Linked DNA regions of Homo sapiens. The protein of the gene in region 4 interacts with the protein of the main gene of each other region in a biochemical or structural test. Each region holds a gene or a part of one and is shown on either strand. Other genes may lie near its edges.

Region 1 (4,850 bases), on a different chromosome or scaffold from region 4:
TGCCTCTCCCTGAGCCAACTCCTAGCTAGACATCCCCTGAATAGCTACGGGGTCTCCTACACCCTAATCTTTTTGTCAAGAGCCACCTTATAATTGAATTTGGACATTTGGCTGGACATTTAAGCCAGATTCCTCTTTCTTTTTAAAGCATCTGTCACACTTGCTTTAAATAAAATTTAAAAGTGACCATCATCTTGCTACAACTGTATTCCAACAAATATATAAAAACAAGCCCATGTGTATATATGTCCACATATATTAAACACTATATGTAAAATGTATATGGAAAGAGTATTTCTATCTGCAATGAAATAATAATTCTCCTTGTCACTTTTCCTGCTAGTCAAGTTTCAGGTTTCTCCCCTTCAGAGGTTCCTGTCATCATCCTCCTACTTCAGGACTTTTCACTGCACAAAGATGACACAGCAGCTACAGAAAACTGGAGTATCTAAGGTATTACTCAGCTTATGTGAAAGCCCCTTTCAAGTAAAGCATTATTACCCTTTAAACACAGCCTTTTGGGGTTCAAGGACAGATCCCATACATGAAAAACAGATATGTTGAAATACCCCATAGCTACATTATTTTTAAGGAGGATGACTTACTTTTAATCATTATTATCATAACAACAAAAGACTTCAGGCATGGTGCTTACAAGGAGTCACAAAACCAAAAACTGCCAAACAAATATTGGAATTTTAGTGGGGTTTCCAGTTTCCTCCCTTCTCCCCTGAAATCCCTGTCTTGAGCTAAGGTTACCTTGATTGCTTTCCAAAATGAGGACTATGATATTAGCAATTCCCTGAAGGGTAAAATGTGAAACTTCCAGGCTAAGAGTCAACCACTAGTAAGTGTGGTCTGGAAATTTCAGTGATTCCTGCCTCTGGAGGGTGTTCAGGCCAAGCAACTTTGCCTTAAAAATGGCCAAGTATAAGGCCTGTAACTGTGATGATTAATGGTTGCTGCCTAAATATTTTAATATTCCATCTTCTAAAACCAACTCTCTACAGGAGCATCATAATATTACACCCATACAAATGGAATTAAAACACAAGACCTACAAGCTAGATGCTAGAGAAAATTCTGCATCTTCCTCCATTAGGACCATCTGACTGTATTTCATATTATTTCCCACAAATTCAACTGCAGATCCTCTTGTTCTGGACTGTGTAGATGATTTTGTTTATTACATACCATAAATATCATCCCCAAACCCAAACTGATGAGCAAATTATAAGGTGCTTATTGCAATTATCACCCTATAATTCACAATTGATGAATCTACATTGAAGATAATACCTGACTCCCCTACATATTTCTTCACCCCTCCTCCCCAATCTTCCCCTAGCTATCATTGGCCTTACTAAGCTATCAATATTTCAATAACAACATGTCCCAGGTAATCTGCAGATTTGGCCCTAGGAGTGACAAAAGTTTTAAAATAACCATTAGGGGTCATGAATGCAATGTGTTTTCTACTACTGACAATTCAAATCTGGCAAGGTGAAGGGGTATAGAATGAATTATTGCTTAAAGAGTTACTCTTGCAAGAGTTCACATAGAGGATGTCCTGCACGTGACAGCAGGAGTGACCCCTGCTTTGTCTTGGAGGCTGGACCTGAGCACTTTTCAGAGCACAGGAACTCTCAAATACTTCCCTTGCCCTGTCTACAACTGCTGGCTTCCTCTAAGTAAAAGGACCTTTGAACCTCTCTCAAGAAGCCGCTTGACATCCAGCTCATAAGAGCACAACAATCACAACGATTTCCAGTTAATCATGAAATGTGTAAAATGTCAGCCTCCAGCCGACAGTTAAGCTCAGCCACTTCGTGAAATGGCCACACGTCTTGCTTACCTTCCACCAGGGAGGTGAGTAACGTGACATTTGCTGCTTTGCGCCTGCCCGCGGGTAAATTCAAACCGATTTTTTCTAGCCTTTCTCGCAAAGATCTCCCCCCATTTTTCGATTTGGCTCTGAAATTGCAAGAATTAACATTCTGATTAACCTTAGAGTGTTCCTGAAACAAAGTTTAGACTTAGCAATCTAAAGCCCAGTGGAGCTTGAAGAGGTTTTAACTTGAGGTTAGCACATTTTTCCCCCTTCCTTTTGGTTATTTGCTGATAGTTTGCTGAGGTTTGCTTAATTTCTGCAATACAGAGAATTTTTTTTAACTGAGTGTTCTTTTTTTATCTTGTGAGAAAAGAAAAAAAAAGGATACCAGATGGGAATAATTAGGTGTAGGTTATGGGTCTAGAGAAGGTAGAAGCTGCACATGCACGTGCATGTTCCTTCCTTGTCATGGAGTTAGTGAGGTGAGCAGAAACTGGGCAAGCACAACCTTGCTGAAAAGAGGATAAGAGCCAGGTGGCTTAGAGAGGAGAGCGCACTTGCTGCAACAGGTGGGCTTTGTGAGGAAGGGGTCAAGAGTTGCTGTATATGGTGTTATGTTAAAAGGAGAGGGCAGACTGAAATCGAAATGGTGATGATCATAATAACAGTAAAACTAACACTTTTGGAAGTGTAGTTATGTGATAAGCACTTTATATTGATTATTTTACTTCATCTCTGCAAATTTATATATACAGGCTTAATGTTCAGGGGGTGATTGAAAACTTCCACACTCTGAGGCTCAAAGCACTCACTTGAAAACTGAATCAAAGGAGGGCAGAGGAAGAGGATTCAAAATGAGAAAGTTCCTGGGTCACACCCTTAATTTCTCCCAAGATTCTCCTTGTATGTGCTAAAGTATGGACAAAAGTACAAGTAAAAATCCTCAGTTACTGTAATCTCTTTTGCTGTACTATTCATACAGTCACTTTTAGGAAAGAAAAGGACTGTCAACCCCCAGAAGGGGTCATCTTGGAAAGTTTTGTCTCAGACAAAGTCACTTTCATATCAGGGACACTGCCAAAGTGTTCAGGCATTGGCAGGGACTTCAAGGGAGGCATTACATCTTAAGATAAAATCCACATTCTCTCACATTTCCACGAGGAGGAGTCAGTCTCTGGGCTGTGGAATACTGTGAAGCACCTGAATGGCTCCCAGGAATACCTATAAATACTTCTAAAGTGATATTATTGCTATTATTGGTGGTGGTGTTATTGAAAGAGGGATGTCACAAATTTAGAAAAAGAGTTTATCAAACTGGGTTACAGTGCATCAGCAGGTTGAAAGACCAATTTCACTGGGTGCCAACTGCATTTAAAACATGCAATAAAAGAGAAAGAGTACACTGAAGGTATGAAGAGAGTTGCTTCATGAAACTTATGGGGTTTTTTGTGGGGGGGCTGGGGGGCTGTTAGTTCCGCGTTGTACTCAGGCTGGAGAATGCCCCCTGAGATGTCCTAGGGGTGACAGGAAGAGAGGCGCCAGGCGCAGGGCCAGGAAAGTGAAAGGTTCCCAGGGCGGCAAAATCTGCGGTAGGACTTGCGCGGCGCGGGCAGGCCTGGATGCAAGGACACTAGAGTTTGTGGGCGAGCAGGTGGCGGCCGCGGATCCTCCCAAGCGCTGCGCGAAAGCAATGCTCCGGCCACCCGGTTGCTAGGCAACTGCGTCAGACTGCAGATTGGGTTTTGCTGGAACCTTCTCCTCACTGTCCAATAAATAAAAACTGGTGGGTTTTTGTTTGTTTTTTTGTTTTTGTTTTTGTTTTTCGTGGTGGGGTTACCTTCTGAGGACTCCGCCGAGGAGAGATGCATTGAGGCATTCAGGGGGCGACAGCCGTCTCTGAACTTCTCCCACAGTTACTTTGTACTTCGAAGTTGAACTGAGCAGAGACAAACGGCCTGGGACGGAGCAAAACACCTCGCCGGTGTTGACAGACATGCCTCCCAGGAAGCCGTCTTTATTCATCATTAGAGAAGTCACCGATTTGGGAGGAACTGGAACTAGAAAGAGAGAAAAAATTGCCATAAAGGTGACCAAGTTTCGATCCTGATGACCGGCTGATAGAATGTGTCTCTGTGTGAGGCCACAGGACAGACACCAAGTGGAAAGCTGAGGGAGGAAGTGTTTATTCCAGTGGGGCTGCAGTGCGTTCAGAGAGCTGTAAACAAACAGATGGCAAAGCCATACCTCCTCTGGAAACTTACTTCGTGTGTAGACATATGAGTGTCATTTGCTACAGTCCTGCTCACTACCCAAATCAAGAAATCAAACAACCCAGAGTTTGGACTGTGCTGGGAACCAGGCAAATCTTATTCCATCGTGTGCTAACTCTGTGACCTTAGACACCTGACTGACTCTGTCTGAACCTCCTCAGTTTCCTTATCTGTCTCCTGAGGATAATAATGCCTATCTCATTTGGTGCTGAAGCCTGACGGTGATTATCACCATGCGGTGATATAAAATGGTAATTCCAATGGAAACCCCTTCCTCCTTTCCTATTGGACCCAGATCTATGGTCATCACTAGAAAGGATAAGGAGGGTGGACCCCATCAGATACTATGCCCAAGAACAGACAAATAATACCATTGAGCTGGGGAGCTGGGCCCAAAACAGCTGCTCATCTCTTTAAAGTGGGCCCCATTCTTCCCTACATAATAACAACAGATTCATTTAGAAAGGAACCCAAATGCTCATCTTCAGTGAAAGCAATTCTGCAGTGACATGAATTTTGTTTACAAATTAAAGCACCGGCTAGTGATTGTTTGGAACAGTTATGATTTACAACAGGTGCCCTGATCAATCAACCAATCACTCTAATTCATATGAGCGGCGGTCTTGCCTTGCCCCAGTTGTTTCTTTTCGGCAAGTAATTGATAACAAACCGCACTCAAGGTATGTTTTATGCAGAAGTTAATAAGAGTTGACAGCTGGTTGCCACTGCTACCCTGGTGCATTCAGCCT
Region 2 (4,833 bases), on a different chromosome or scaffold from region 4:
TTACAGGCACTAAGGATCAGAGTCCTAAGCTTCTGTTTTGCAGATGAGAAGCAGGCCCAGAGTGAGAGAGTGACTTAATATTGTCCCCATCACAGAGCCCAGGCTCTGATTCTTTCTAAACCTCTCGGGGGCTGGTGACTGGTTCCATTGCCAGGGGACTCTACATCCATCCACCGAGGCCAGTTGAGGCTGGGAAAGGCTGTTTTTCCTCCAAATATCTCAGGGGAGGAAGGCCAGCCTAAACAGGGGCTGCTTGGTTTCATGATTAGCCTCTGCTGAAGATAGAGTTTCTGATTTATCCAGGCTTCTCTGAAGGGAGTTGAAGATAACGGGCAGCAGGTGTTTGCTAGCAGAGACACCCAATCCTCCCACACTCCCTGTCAGCAAAGACAGCCCTGGCAGAGGGGAATCTGAGGCCCCAGCTCAGTGGGAGAGGCAGGAGGCGGCTTTGTCCTGAGGGTGCCATGGACCAAGGACAGGTGAGCTTTCTCATCCGACTTCATACCCTTTTGTTGTTGAGATAGGGTCTCACTCTGTCGCCTGGGCTGGAGTGCAGTGGCGTGATCTCGGCTCACTGCAACCTCCACCTCCCGGATTCATGAGATTCTTGTGCCTCAGTTTCCCAAGTAGCTGGGATTATAGGCGCCACACCCAGCTAATTTTTGTATTTTTAGTACAAAAATGTGTGTGTAGGCCGGGCACGGTGGCTCACGCCTATAACTCTGCACTTTGGGAGGCCGAGGCGGGCGGATCAGGCCAGGCTGGTCTCGAACCCCTGACCTCAAGTGATCCACCCACCTCAGCCTCTTAAAGTGTTGGAATTACAGGCGTGAGCCATGGTGCCCAGCCCCAACTTCATTTCCTTTTGGTTTCTCCATCCAAAGTCTGAGGCTTCAGGCTCCTTGGCCTCATCCTTCAGAGTCTTGGCAGCAAACCTGAGTGTGCAGGAGCATCCCACGGAGGGCTTGTCAACCCACAGCAGGGCCCTGCCTAGAGGTTCCGATTCAGCAGGTGGCACCGATAACTCCGGTTCAGGGTCTGTGCTTTGAGCAGAGACGCTTTACAGAATTAGTCATCCTCATGGAAGGAAATGTTTATTTCAACATCAGCAATTTCCTCAGCTTCACTTCAGATTCTTTTGGCTAATTGCAAAGATGACTTTGAACTTCACGTTAACAAGGGCACAAACAGAATTGTTCTATCACTGCTGCCTATTCCTGATTCCTGCATTTATGCCCTGGTATTGTCAGGAATGTTCCAATTTCACTGACATCTTGGGTAGGTTCTCTTAATTTTGTTTTGCTTGATTTCGATGATGACCAGATGTCATTTAAAAAAACAAATACAATGTGGCCATTCTTTAAAGGAGAAAGTCCCCTCAGAGGGTGATTGTGAGGATTTAGAGGAAATAATCGAAGTCCTGTCTGGCCTTTAAAAGTACTGAATAAATGGTAGCTGTTACCAACTAACAGATTGCATGGACCATGTGCCAGATATTAATTCACTTAATCTCCACAAAAACTCCCCATTTTGTAAATGTAAAATCTGAGGCAACTGGAGGTTAAATGATGTGCCAGCGCTGGGCGCGGTGGCTCAAGCCTGTAATCCTAGCACTTTGGGAGGCCGACGTGGGCGGATCACGAGGTCAGGAGATCGAGACATCCTGGCTAACACAGTGAAACCCCGTCTCTACTAAAAAAACACACACACTCAAAAAAAATTAGCTGGGCATAGTGGCAGGCACCTGTAGTCCCAGCTACTCGGGAGGCTGAGGCAGGAGAATGGCGTGAACCCAGGAGGCAGAGCTTGCAGTGAGCCAAGATCACACCACTGCACTCCAGCCTGGGCGACAGAACGAGACTCCGTCTCAAAAAAAAAAAAAAAAATGTGCTAGCAAGTAGCAGAGCTGGCTGTTCCCCAACCCCTGCCTTTCAACAGGGACCCCTCCAGCATAGAAGAGGAAGTCGTCACACACTGTCCTGCAGGGAGGGCAGCCGCTGTTCCAGAAGAGACCTTGCTGGGGCTGTGGAGGGGCTCAGCCTTGGGGTAAGAGGTTAATGGTTCTCTCTCATGGAGCAACTGACTTTGCAAAGGAGGGCAAGTCTCCCCTCCCTGAGCCCACTTAGGCATGGAAGCTGACCCTGAGTATCCCCTGCCATTGAGAGGAAGCTTGGGTGAAGCCAGCAGGGTAAACAGAGCCCACTCTTTTTGCAGAACTCTGAAAATTCTAAAAACCATTGAATTGTAAACGTTAAACAAGTGAATGGTATGGTATGTGAGTTAGATGCCAATAAACCTTCTATTTAGAAAACAGTTCACTCCCCAGGCACCTCTGGGAAAAGTTTCTTTAATAAAAAAGTTCTAGTACATATACACGATTGTCCTCACCCTTCATCTATAGCAACGCAACAGGGAAAATAAAAAATAAGGGGCAACCTAGGCACACTCAGTATAAAAACGCAGAGATCCATCCGAATGGGAGGCATTGGGGTCTGGAAACCAGAAATGCAGGACGGCCAGTGGGCCCAGCAGCTCTGGGCTGCACTTTTGAAGAACTTTCTCTAACGTTTTGAAGATAGCATTAAAAAAAAAAATTAAGTTGCACCAGGAGGCCTAAGAAGGTTCCATTCCAGAGAGAAAGTCCACTGTAGGTCAGTCACAGCAGGCCCAGGCCCAGGACACAGGGTTGAGCATTTTACGGCAGGTAAGAGGCTTCTGGAAACTTGGCCTCTGAGGCAACCCTGGCCCAGGTGGAGAGGTTTTCAGTGCTGAAGTCAAACTGCCCACATTCCTCCATCCTGAAAGGCTAAGGAAGCCACCACTCTAACGTCAGACTCATAGCCTGTCTCCGCCAAGTTGCTACGGCCACTTCCTGACAAGCTCCGAAGTCCTCAGCTGAAGGGGGAACTGAGACCCCTTGGAGATGCTCTGTGGCCTGACGTTTGGTCCCCAGCCCTGCAGGCAGGCCGCCTAGTCGTCCTCCCCGCCACCGTACATGTCTGCCAGCTTCTTGAAGCGGCTGCCCCACTCGTTCAGATAATCGTAATCTTGGTCTTGGTCGGAGGCGGAGGAGGTGAGGGAGCTCAGGGACGCGGCGTCGGAGCCGCTGCCCTCATAGTCGAACACCAAGAGGGTGTCGTAGGGCGGGGCTGTGGGGTCTGTGTTAGCCGCCTTCAGGTTCTGCGGCAACAGAGAACAGGTAGTTAGGAGCGGCGGGTCCTGCCTCTTGCCAGCTGCAAGCCTCCATTTCCTCTCTGTGAGCCCCTCTCTCCCCTCCCCTAAAGGTTTTGGAGGTAGAAATGAAAGAATGCGTTATTCATGCAGAATTCATTCACTCAGGGACCAGCAGACAGCAAGTGCTCAGTGCAACACAGGCCAGGGGGTAAGGGCAAGGACTGAAATCAGACAGCCCGGGCCAGAACTCACACCACACACTAGCTTTGTGGCCTTGGGCGAGTCCCTTAACCACTCTATGCCTGTTTCCTTGTCTGTAAAATGACAATAGTTTTTTTCTTCCTTTTTTAAAGGATGCATGCCTGTGACACAGCCTCGGGAGGTACTGAGGACATGTGCCTCCGTATAGTTTTAAAGGAACAGATGAATGAGTAAATGAGTAAATACCTGTAAAGCAGTTATTAGAATAGCACCTCGCAACAATAGCTATCATTATCTAATAAGCGCTACATGCTAGGTCAGTAGTTCCGAAACTTAAATTATCTGGAGAATCTTTTATAAATTCTGAAGCCCAGGCCACACCCAGTTCAATTATATCACAATCTTTGGAGGTGAGCTGAGGCATCAGTGGTTTCTGAAGGTGCCCAGGTGATTCCAACACGCAGGCAGGGTCGGGAACCACTGTGCTGGCACTGTCCTAGCTGCCTGCTCGTTCAATCCTTGAAGTCTTCTACAGCAGAGGCTCCAAACTTTGCCCCCCAGGTGCAATCACCTGGGATCTATAATCCAAACCCAGGTAGTCTGGCTCCAGAGTATTCAACTGCTATATGTGTTGAATAAATGAATAAATCATTCCTAATTTTTTTTTTTTTAAAGATGGAATCTCCCTTTGTTGCCCAGGCTGGAGTGCAATGATGTGATCTCGGCTCACTGCAACCTCCACCTCCTGGGTTCAAGCGATTCTCCTGCCTCAGCCTCCTGAGTAGCTGGGACTACAGGCGCCCACCAGGACGCCCAGCTAATTTTTTGTATTTTTAGTAGAGACAGGGTTTTACCATGTTGGCCAGGATAGTCTCAATCTCTTGACCTTGTGATCTGCCCGCCTCAGCCTCCCAAAGTGCTGGTGGGATTACAGGCATGAGCCACTGTGCCCGGCCTTTTTTTTTTTTTTGAGATGGAGTCTCCCTTTGTTGCCCAGGTGTGGGGGGCGCACGACAAGACATTCAAGCCTATGTAAGAGGCATGTGAGGTCGAGGCATGGAAAAATATTGAGGCGCTGTGTGCATGTTGTTTGTACACAAGACTAGATCTCCTGGACCTTGAAAACAGGACAGGGAGTAGTATGTGTGATAAGGAGCGCTGAACACAGCCTCCTAAAAATGTGGTTTGAGTGTTTTTTACAAGGCCATATGTGCCTCATACCCGACCGCCAAGAGCCACCTGGTGGATGTCTCTTGTTTGTCTAAATTGTAGTTTAAACAAGCTCTCTCAATAAATACCTGGCAGACAGATCTTAGAGTGACGCTCTCTCAAAGGAACTGCTCCCCGCCCCGCTCAGCTAGAATTGTCTGAGTACTTCATTCTCGGCATTCACTACAGCCATAAGTTGCACCCAGGTGCGATCTTGGCTCACTGCAACCTCCACCTCCCACCATGTTG
Region 3 (5,507 bases), on a different chromosome or scaffold from region 4:
ATGAATTACAGCTCACATGTACGACTGCACCCAACTTCAGTCCTGAGTCTCTTGGCTAAGCTGTAGCTCTACCATCACATGGATGATGAGCAAACATCAAGAACACAGACGCCATGGCCACGGTGTGGCTGGACTGCTTGGATTCTGCCACTTACTAACTGTATAACCCAGCAAGTTAATTGAACCTCACTGTGCCTTGGTTTTGTCACCTGTAAAATTAACAATAGTATCTACCTCATAGGATTAAATGAGATCATATTTGCAAAGTACTGCTTAGGATAGTGGCTGGCACAGAGTAAATGCTATATGTTTTTGATAAATAAAACAATTAATAAATGGAAATCTAGGAATGTGGACAAAATTTAAAAGTTGGAAAAGCAAACTTTGGGGCAGCTTGGGGAATTCTGTCACAACTTATTTTTCTGATCACAAGTGCAATGAGAATAAATTTCTTCCCACCCTACCCTAAACTAATGCAATCTCAATTGAGCGGTGGAACATGCTTCATTCACTAATTAGAATTTAAAAAGGAAGTGATAACCTCACGGAGCACAGCCCCATTGACCCTGAGGGTGACTATACAGGACCTTCAATTGCTGATTCTCTCCCATCCTTCTCTGGGATCTGTTTCTCCCACCCTCCCCATTCTGAGGTAGCTGGAAGAGAGTAGGCTTTGTGCCCTTTGGCGAGTACAGGGAGAAAATAGTAGGTTCAGCCTCTCCAACTGCCCAGGGAGAAAGCAATACCTTTCAAGGTCCCCAGGCTAAATTTTGGAGGGATGCTTTTGTGTGTCACTGTCAGGCTCACACCGACATAAACCCTTGAGAAATGCCTGGTTGGTGACGTCCTAGAGGTAACACCAAGCAAGCCCCAGATTTTCTCTTCTTCGTCAGCAATTCCCAGATGAGGTGCTCTTGTGTTTACCCTCTCTGATTGTCTGGATTCCCTGATAGTACCCTCTATACAAGGAACTAGAATGTTTCTTACTGGATTCCTCTGTTGGTGGTGATAGAGTTTACTTTGGGTATCTAGTCGGTCTGGTTGCCCCTGGTATCTCTGGTTGGTACAACAGAATCCTGACTGAGCTCCTTAGTGCCTTCTTGAATACTGTATAATTAACTAGGCCTCCAATTGTGCCCCGCCTTGCCCCAGCCCATAGATGGACAATCCCTCCTGCCATGTCTTAAAGAGAAATTACCATAATAAATGACTCTCCAGACAGCACATTTCCCAGCAAGAGGGGGCATGTAAACCAAGTCTATTAGTATTGGCAGCAAAATCCAATGTGTTATTGTTACCAGTATGAACACTCTGGGTATCCTGGCCTCCTATATAGATATTTGAAACAAAACAGACAAACAATGTGAAGGAAGGAGGAAAAACAGCCACACAAATGAGTTACAGTGAGTTTAATGAAAACTAATTCCATTGCTGGGTCCATGTGATATAACCAGCCACTTGTGCTCTGTTCTAGTGGTTTATAATGTTACCTCACCCTCTCCAAGAAATTGGTTTCCCGTAAATCTCTGTGGCCATTCATTCCTGTCTACACATTATGTTCCTAAAATAGACACCAGCTAAAAATCTCTTCCAGGAGCTTTGTGAAGGAAGGCCTAAATTGCAAAACTCCTCCTAGAAGAGAGATGTGATTTTGTAATTGCTTCATTGCAATTACAAAAGCAACAATCATAAAAGAGAGTTTTAAAAGAGTTTTTCACCACAGTCATTCTCCTGAAATGCACAGCTGAGGGAAAGAAGAATGTCAGATGCCCCGCGAACGTGCAGAAGCTCCCAGTTGCATCACCCTGGCGTGCCAGGTATTGCAGCAAATAGGAAAGGTAAGCTACCCACTTCTCTGGGCAGGAGAAACTAAAGCAGGAATCACCAACCTCAGCATGGAATTTTCCTATTTCTGTCTGGCAACATCCTCTTGGGATGATTTAAAGTGCTTTTTGGAGAAATATGTTCTGTTACTATACTAGCGCATCAGAAATACCACGTGAACCTGTAAATCCATAGAAGAAGAAGACACATTTTATAGGTGTGATAGCAACAGCAATTGGCAATTTGCAAGTTTGCTACTGCACTCAGAAATATTTAGTCACATGCACATATTGACAGTAATATACCCTGCCTTGACTTAATTGTTGCATTGGACAGGTGAAAAGCACATACCCACCACTCCAGACCGATTTGTTAACAATCACCAGTGAGTAATCAAAGAGAACAAAAAGAAATGAGAAGTAAATGCAGCAAGTGGGTCGGGTCTTTAAACACATACCTCAAACAGGTAGGAGTCAGGAAATCCATGATAGCAAAGACATTTGGACAAGCCTCACCTCCACTCAGAAATAATTCTTATGCTGTTCTGAAAAGCAAGACGGTTCACACTAGGAACTGAGCAGTATCTGCAGTATCATTGCTGGTTGTGACCTCTGTCTAAGTAAAAGTAAGTCAATGTTTCCTATTTGGCATTGGATAGAAAAGGGGACTCTTTACCACTCTGCTCAAGCTCTTTTTTAGTGTGGCTCAATAGGAGTTGGCAGAGGTGGGGGGCGGAAATCATTGCCCCTTCCTTGTTCAAGGCATGAGGCATTTCTTCTCAAAAGCCCAGCCTCAGCCTCAGGAAGCTGAATACCCCTGCAATGCTAGGCTCCAGCAGCAGCCCCGCTGCCTTCTTTCTTCCTGTGGAGTTAAAACTGAGATCTAATTTTTGCTCCGTCCTTAAGAACAATATGACCTCTATTCCCAGCCAGCTAGTCCACTTCCAAAGCACCAGTGAAGGAGGGGGCTTCAACAGGATCAAAAGGGACCTTGAATAGGATGAAGGCAAGCAAAGGCAAGAACTGGCCAGATGCCAAGCTATTTCAGGCCAAAGAATCCCATCTTCTATCAAAATGCTGAACTGCAAAACAAACCTGATTTCAGTTCATGGAAGGTTGAGAGAGGAGGGGGGAGGGGAGGGGAGGAGAAGAGGAGGAGAGGGAGGAGGGGGACAGTTGGTCTGAATACACATACAAAAATGGACTTCCTGCTCTGCCCAAACTGAATTTCCATGGACTCTTTTTCCAAAGGAATAACTGGAATGAATAAACTTAAAATCAAGATGAAACAATTAGATGGCTTACCTGATTAAAAGGAAAATTATCCATCTGCAGTGAGGAACAGCATCACCCAAAGACGAGATGATAACAATGTGCCTTCAGTTGCAATTGTTCAGATTCCTTCTTGCAAAAGGTGTCAAAGTATTTACAAGGGCTGCAGTCTCACTGGGGCAGAACACACAGACACACAAACACACACAAACGCACACATACACACATGCACCAGAGACCTCTGCAGTATCCTCTCGGCTTCATCCTCGCCTCACTCTATGGTACCTAATACAAATCAGCAAATAGCTTGTTTCAAAAAAAAAAAAAAAAAGTCAAGACAGCACCTTACATTACATCGCCATCTAGTGGCTAAATATTAAACACTTTCTCACAATCCAGATTTATGATTTCTTCCTCAACCTCTTTTCTCTCAGCCTTTTTTCCTTTCTTCTCTGTAATCTCCCAGTATTGCTTCTCCTTGCTTCTCTTTCATTCCCTATTGCTATATAATATCATGAACCTAATGACTCAAAGAGGAAAAGGTTTGAAAGTAAATATAGCTATTTTCAAGTAGTACTTGAAAAACTTTAGCATTATTTTAGTTTGAAACTGTTACTTTATTCCTAATATGAATCATTGTTATCTATAAAAATGATATATCTTATAAATAAAACTGTCTTTTTATTCCACCAGGAAACAATCAGGTGGCCCTTTATTACAGATCTATGGCTTCACATTTTTCTGTTTTAATATTGTGTTTTAGGATTAGGTTTCATATTATAGTGAACAGCTCAGAGTCACAAAATGTGAGTTTTACTTCAACACTGATGAACACATGCCTTTAACAAAGCCACTGAAGTCTTCTATGGACATTTACATTCTTACTATCTTCATCTGTAATTACAGATTAAACAAGACTTTCAACCCACTCTCAATTTCTATGGTTTTACTATATTTTACTCCAATGTTTTCCCATCTTGTGGACACAGCCTAAAGCTTAATTATAATAACACATTTTAATAAGCAAATATATATAGAAAGAGAGTCCAATTGCCTATTACCCAAAGATAGAATTATAAAAACCATGAATATCAGTTTTTTCTAAGACAATAAAAATCCATGCCAAACTAATTATAACTCTTGGAACTGAGAGTAGAGCTTTTTATGTTATATATTGTATTCTAAAATGGAATCAGCCTTAAACATTCAGTCATACATAAAATCACGATTATGTGTAGATTAGTCATTGGAAGTAAATATTTCATCCTCATTATTTTTCTTTTGCCATCTAACACACTTATTACAATCATTGCATGTGTTTTATCATTTATCAATATAACCTTCAATATTTAATCCTTCTCTTCCTTATTACAGGATGGTGAGATAAATACTATTAATGTTATTATATTATAATTATTCCTATTTATACTTGAGAACACTGAAGCTTTCTGAGCCTTACTGAGGTTTATTCAAGACCACATAGCTTGCAAAGCAATAAAACTAAGGCTGTTGGTCCCAAGAGCCCAAAGAATAATCCACTGTTCTTTGCAACATACCTAAAAGTTCACCATTTTTTCCTGTTCTAGAATCACAGAAAAGTAATTTTGATTTCTATGTTTACAAAACATTTACTAGCCCTTAATTATGGACCAATGGGTCCATCTTGTGGATCCATCTTTTTATCTATAAAAGAAAGAAATTAAGTAAGATAATTTCCTGTTCCAGCTCAAAAACTCTATCCAGTGCTTTCCCAAAAGCCAGTTGGAGTAGCATGAACACATTCATTTGAAGTTACTCAATGTCTGGGAAATGATGTTGCCCAGTATCTGGTAGAGTCAGGGCAAAGTTGAAAGAAGATGAGGAGACAGGTGATCAACAACTGGTAAACGATTGCCAAGATGTTAGAGATGAAAAGAGAGTGGGAACTGCATGAACTAACAGGCAATTTTTTTAGAATAATACATTCCATATGAATAGTACTTAGAGATTAGATATGTAAAAACACAAAATAAGAACATACCTGGCCACATGTTTTAATGAATTCTAATTGCATATTATAGGTGCCAATTTTTCTGAGTGTCTGCTCTTAACAATTCCCCCAATAGTTCTTCTCCCCTGATCCTTAGTGGTAAACCTACCCTCTTGCTACAGAGGACTGGAGCAAGAGAGGGTATCTACGCAGCTGACCTGGTCAAAGAGAGCCACTACATGTGATTCTGGCAGCTATGGAGTCAGCTTTCCCTCACCATGGGGACTCAGGACCAGGTGGACCAGGATACTGAAATAGCAGCCAGCCACACAGATGTGGAGGAAGAAGTGACAAAAGACAGAGACAGACTGTTTCCATCTCCAGTCTACTCAAGATCCAAACACTTTCTTGATGTTGAGTCCCATGATAAACTCAAACTCCAT
Region 4 (4,850 bases):
AATACATGTAGCAGAAATACAACTTCACTTTATGCATCTGGGAAGTGTGAGGATGAGGAGCTCTCCTTACAGAGAAGGGCAGCACAGCTGAAAGCACGCTCTCCCCCCAGGGATTTCAGCGCATGCGCTGTGGGCAGCACTGTCGAATTATGTACCAGTGTCGCTTTGTGTGTCCTTATTCATCACCAGCAGCTTTGAAAATGAAGTGCTTAAGAGGTAAAGGAAGCAACTGCCACCCAGTGAAGCACCACAATCATTAGCAATATTACCAGCTCCTCCCAAAATTAACCAGCTTATTCCACAGAAAACCATTCTTAAAAAAGGAATATGGTTGTAAACAAATGGTCTGATGCCATGCAGTAATTAAAATGCTCTGACCGAACAGATGGTTTCCATGACCCATGCTGCTTCTGTCTAATAAGAGAAAGAACGAAAAGTAGAGGGGAGAGGCATCCCAGGCAGGTAAACGTTTCACCAGGTCAAGATGTGAACATGGAAGTGAACGACTTCCCTACAGGAATGTGCAACAGAATTAAAAGTAAGGTGACCAGAAAACAAAGGCAGAGCATCACCACGTACGGTCTCTAGCATGCGGCACTCACTACAATCAGAGAAGCCCGCAGAAAAGGCTCTTGGGAAGGGAACAAAAGAAAGGAGGGAGAAGAAGGTATCACAATGTGAGAGTCACAGATAAGAAGTGAAAAAGAGAATCTCTAAGCACATGGTTTACAAAATATCTCCACAGACCCCACGCTGACAGCCCCGCCCCCACCCGCTGCCCAGCTTGCCTGCACCTCAGGCTGTTACCTTGCAATGCTTTGAAGCCCTGCAGAGGCACTCGAGAGGATCCTGTCACAAACTGAAGCAATCTTGCTCGTCGCTCTTCATCAAAAAACTCCACAGCTTTCCAGAACCATTTGACAATGTTGCTGTCTGGTGTACAGTGTTTTAACCGGGTGTTTACCTTCCAGTCATTAACATCTATCTTTCCAAGTCCACAAATAATGAGCTGTGAAAATAGTACACAGTAATGAACCTGTGGAAACCACAGCCAGACCAAAAATTCCTCAAAAGAGAACTTTAGGTTTGTACTGCTGGCTGTCATTTGGTGGTTCCTAATTAAAGATGCACATCAGAATCATCTGAAAAGCTTTTCAAATTGACATTCCAGGTCCTAGGCTCAGAGATGTTAATTCTGTGCACCTGGGGTGACAGTTGGGATCTATATTTTAAAAAGCTCCAGAGATATCTACTCACTGCAAACTCCCTCTCCAGGGTCTGAGAACCACAGCTGTGATAGACTTGACCAGGTAAACAATTGAGAATGTTTCATAAGTTCATAATAAAATTATAAAGCTTTAAAAAAAATGGACAGAAATTGAGACCCAAAGAGTAAATACAGATATGTGCCTTCTTTGGACCTGCATCATCTACTAGTTTCAATACCTATTAGCTTTGTTGATTGAGGGCAATTCAATCAATTCCTCTGCTGTAATATGGTAGTAACATCCATTTCACTACATCCTGGGGAAGCAACCGATAATGCACAGAAACTTCAGAAATGGGTGTTGAATAAGTGAGTCATACAATTTGCTTAATAATTTTTTTTTTTTAAGACAGAATTTTGCTCTGTCTCCTAGGCTGGAGTGCAGTGGCATGATCTAGGCTCACTGCAACCTCTGCCTCCCGGGTTCAAGTGATTCTCCTGCCTTAGCCTCCCAAGTAGCTGGGATTACAGGCATGCACCACAATGCCCAGCTAATTTTTGTATTTTTAGTAGAGATGAGATTCCGCCATGTTGGCCAGGCTGGTCTCCAACTCCTGGCCTCAAGTGATCCGCCTGCCTCAGCCTCCCAAAGTGCTAGGATTATAGGTGTGAGCCACTACACCTGGCCTACATTTGCTTAATAATATTAAATTGATATTAAAGCACAAAATACATGAGCACATTGATACAGACCTCTGCTAAACACATCCTGATGGAGGGTCACACAGATGAACTATATCCAAATCATTTTATACTATCATTAATATGTCTCCCTAGGGTTCAAGACTAACTCACCATACTAATCTAACATGTTTGTTTATAGCAGTGAATTCCATGTATACTATAAAACATAACTTGCAAATCCTGTATTTTATAGAATTACACCCAGGATTAATATATACAATGCTAAAATAAATGTTATACATATTGTCTTTAAAAATTGGTAGGGTGTGGTAGCTCACGCCTGTAATCCTAGCACTTTGGGAGGACGAGGCATGCAGATCACTTGAGGTCAGGAGTTCAAGACCAGCCTGGCCAACATGGCGAAACCCTGTATCTACTAAAAATACAAAAAGGTAGCCGGGCGTGGTGGCGGGCACCTGTAATCCCAGGTAAGGCATGAGAATCGCTTGAACCCAGGAAGTAGAGGTTGTAGGGAGCTGAGATCCCATCAGCCTGGGGGACAAGTGAGACTGTGTCTCCAAAAAAAAAAAAAAAAAAAAAAAAAGCCAAAATAATGTTAGCCAGGCGTGGTGGTGCACACCTGTAGTACCAGTTACTGGGGAGACTGAGGTAGGAGGATCACTTCAGCATAAGAGTTAACAGTGAGCTAGGATCATGGTACTGCACTCCAGCCTAGGCAACAGAGTGAGACTCTATCTCAAAAAATAAAAATAAAAAGTTTAATGATTCAGGCCTGGTGCAGTGGCTCACGCCTGTAATCCTAACAATTTGGGAAGCAGAGGCAGGTGGATTGCCTGAGCTAAAAAGTTCAAGACCGGCCTGGGCAACATGGTGAAACCCCATCTCTACTAAAAATACAAAAATTAGCCAGGCATGGTGGTGCACACCTGAAGTCCCAGTTACTCAGGAGGCTGAGGCACGAGAATCGCTTGAAAACCTGGGAGGCAGAGGTTGCGGTAAGTGGAGATTGTGCCACTGTACTCCAGCCTGGGTGACAGAGTGAGATTCTGTCTCCACAAATAAAAAAAAGAAAAAAGAGAAGAAAAACAAAGTTTCATGACCCATTAGCAGTAGAAACTATATTAAAAATCCTAACCCTACCAAATAAAGTCTCCAGTAAGGCTTCTATGGGGTTCTGAAATAAAATCTCCAACAAAGCTTCTACAGGGTTCACTGAATTAACACCACACTGAACAGGGAGGAGGTTATCCGAAAAGGATTATGGGTGTATTTAATGACATAAAAGACACCTCCTAAATTCTTTTCTTCAGAGGAATGGCAGTTAGAAGGCCAAATCCTCGTTTATTGTATAAAGAGATGAAAATGCATTATATTTCAACCTTATCGGCATTCCTGCTATGTTCTCCTTCTAACTACTTCCTTCTGGCTATTTCACTATGAACAATTCAATCACAAAAGGAATGGGGAGAGTATTAAGTAAAACCAACCTTTTTAGATTTGTTTGCTAACAGGTCTATTAACAGATTTATTTAGAAAGGACATTGAAGGCATTGAATAAAATCATGTTTCAAATTATTAGTAGACTTCAAATATTTGTGTTATCCCTAACTACTAAATAAATTTGGGACCTTTAATAGAATTAAACCTCGTGTTTTTTAGTTGTTCAGTAGGAAATTCAGATGCATTTGTTTAAGGTCTTAATTACAAAACCTGGGGTGTTTAAGGGCCAGCTTTAAAAGGAAACAAAAAACTATTCACTGTTTAGTATGGCCGTTAATCTAAAGACATTTAGAGGCCAGGTGCGGTGGCTCACACCTGTAATCCCAGCACTGTGGAAGGCCGAGGTGGGTGGATTATTTGAGGTCAGGAGTCCCAGGCCAGCCTGGCCAACATGGTGAAACCCCGTTTCTACTAAAAATACAAAAATTAGCTGGACGTGGTGGCAGGTGCCTGTAGTCCCAGCTACTTGGGAGGCTGAGGCAGGAGAATCACTTGAATCCAGGAGGTGGAGGTTGCAGTGCCACTGCCCTCCAGCCTGGGCAACTCTGTCTCCAAAAAAAAAAAAAAAAAAAAGAGAGAGACATTTAGATTCAATTTATCCTAGGTGTTTTAGTTATTTTCTCGATGATCTTGTCTATCAAATGCTTTCTTGCAAGCTTAGTGTAAAACTAATTCAGAGTAGGCTCTTACCCAAATAAATTTCAAAATGGTAGATTAATGAGGTTTTACTTAACTAAATCAGTAACCACTAAGTTAGGGAATAGACATATATTGGAAGAATGTACATATAAGTCACGAAATCTGTTTAAAACAAGAAAGTACAGGATAGAAAAATAAATTAAAAATTTTCACAATATAAGAGAGACTGCTCACAGCTGGGCATGGTGGCTCAAGCCTATAATCCTAGCACTTTGGGAGGCCAAGGCAGGCGGATCACTTGAGCTCAGGAGTTTGAGACCACCCTGGGAAACATGGCAAAACCCTGTCTCTACCAAAAAAAACAAAAAAATTAGCCAGGGGTGCTGGTGCATGCTTGTAGTCTCAGCTACTTGAGGGGCTGAAGGATCATTTGAGCCCAGGAGGTCAAGGCTGCAGTGAGCCATGATTGCACCACTGCACCCCAGCCTGGGTGACAGAGTGAGACCCTGTCTCAGAAAAAAAAAAAGAGAGAGAGAGACAGATTGTTCACTCACAGAAATTCCAAAGCATGAAAGGCCTTCAAAAGCATGAAAGACTTTTCCTGTGAATAAGAATTCTCAAGCATAGAACCATGAAACTTAGAAAGCACCAGAAATATGCTTTCCTCTAAAACTAAGTAACAAAATAATTCCCAATCCTTCCTTGTTACACTAGTGATGTTATAATACTAATGCACTAACCTCTAACTCCTTCTCATCAAATGTCTTCAGCAGATGTTGTGGAATTACTTCATTAAATC

The links. Proteins that work in one complex are often made in the same cells at the same time.
Region 1: the proteins of SMURF2 (region 4) and TFAP2B interact in a surface display test, tested with the Homo sapiens proteins (one large-scale study listed by IntAct).
Region 2: the proteins of SMURF2 (region 4) and CDH3 interact in a surface display test, tested with the Homo sapiens proteins (one large-scale study listed by IntAct).
Region 3: the proteins of SMURF2 (region 4) and SCN1A interact in a surface display test, tested with the Homo sapiens proteins (one large-scale study listed by IntAct).

What each region holds. Positions count from the first base shown.
Region 1 is NC_000006.12:50,835,099-50,839,948, reverse strand, and holds part of TFAP2B (transcription factor AP-2-beta), read right to left. Parts: intron 3,889-4,850; coding exon 3,669-3,888; intron 1,975-3,668; coding exon 1,856-1,974; intron 1-1,855.
Region 2 is NC_000016.10:68,696,538-68,701,370, reverse strand, and holds the end of CDH3 (cadherin-3 isoform 1 preproprotein), read right to left. Parts: intron 3,279-4,833; coding exon of another isoform or gene 3,204-3,278; exon of another isoform or gene 3,181-3,203; coding exon 2,971-3,180; 3' UTR 1,079-2,970; downstream 1-1,078. UniProt on the Homo sapiens protein: Cadherins are calcium-dependent cell adhesion proteins. They preferentially interact with themselves in a homophilic manner in connecting cells; cadherins may thus contribute to the sorting of heterogeneous cell types.
Region 3 is NC_000002.12:166,124,643-166,130,149, forward strand, and holds the start of SCN1A (sodium channel protein type 1 subunit alpha), read right to left. Parts: upstream 3,379-5,507; 5' UTR 3,129-3,378; intron 2,369-3,128; 5' UTR 2,282-2,368; intron 1-2,281. UniProt on the Homo sapiens protein: Pore-forming subunit of Nav1.1, a voltage-gated sodium (Nav) channel that directly mediates the depolarizing phase of action potentials in excitable membranes.
Region 4 is NC_000017.11:64,546,793-64,551,642, forward strand, and holds part of SMURF2 (E3 ubiquitin-protein ligase SMURF2), read right to left. Parts: coding exon 4,792-4,850; intron 1,010-4,791; coding exon 808-1,009; intron 1-807. UniProt on the Homo sapiens protein: E3 ubiquitin-protein ligase which accepts ubiquitin from an E2 ubiquitin-conjugating enzyme in the form of a thioester and then directly transfers the ubiquitin to targeted substrates.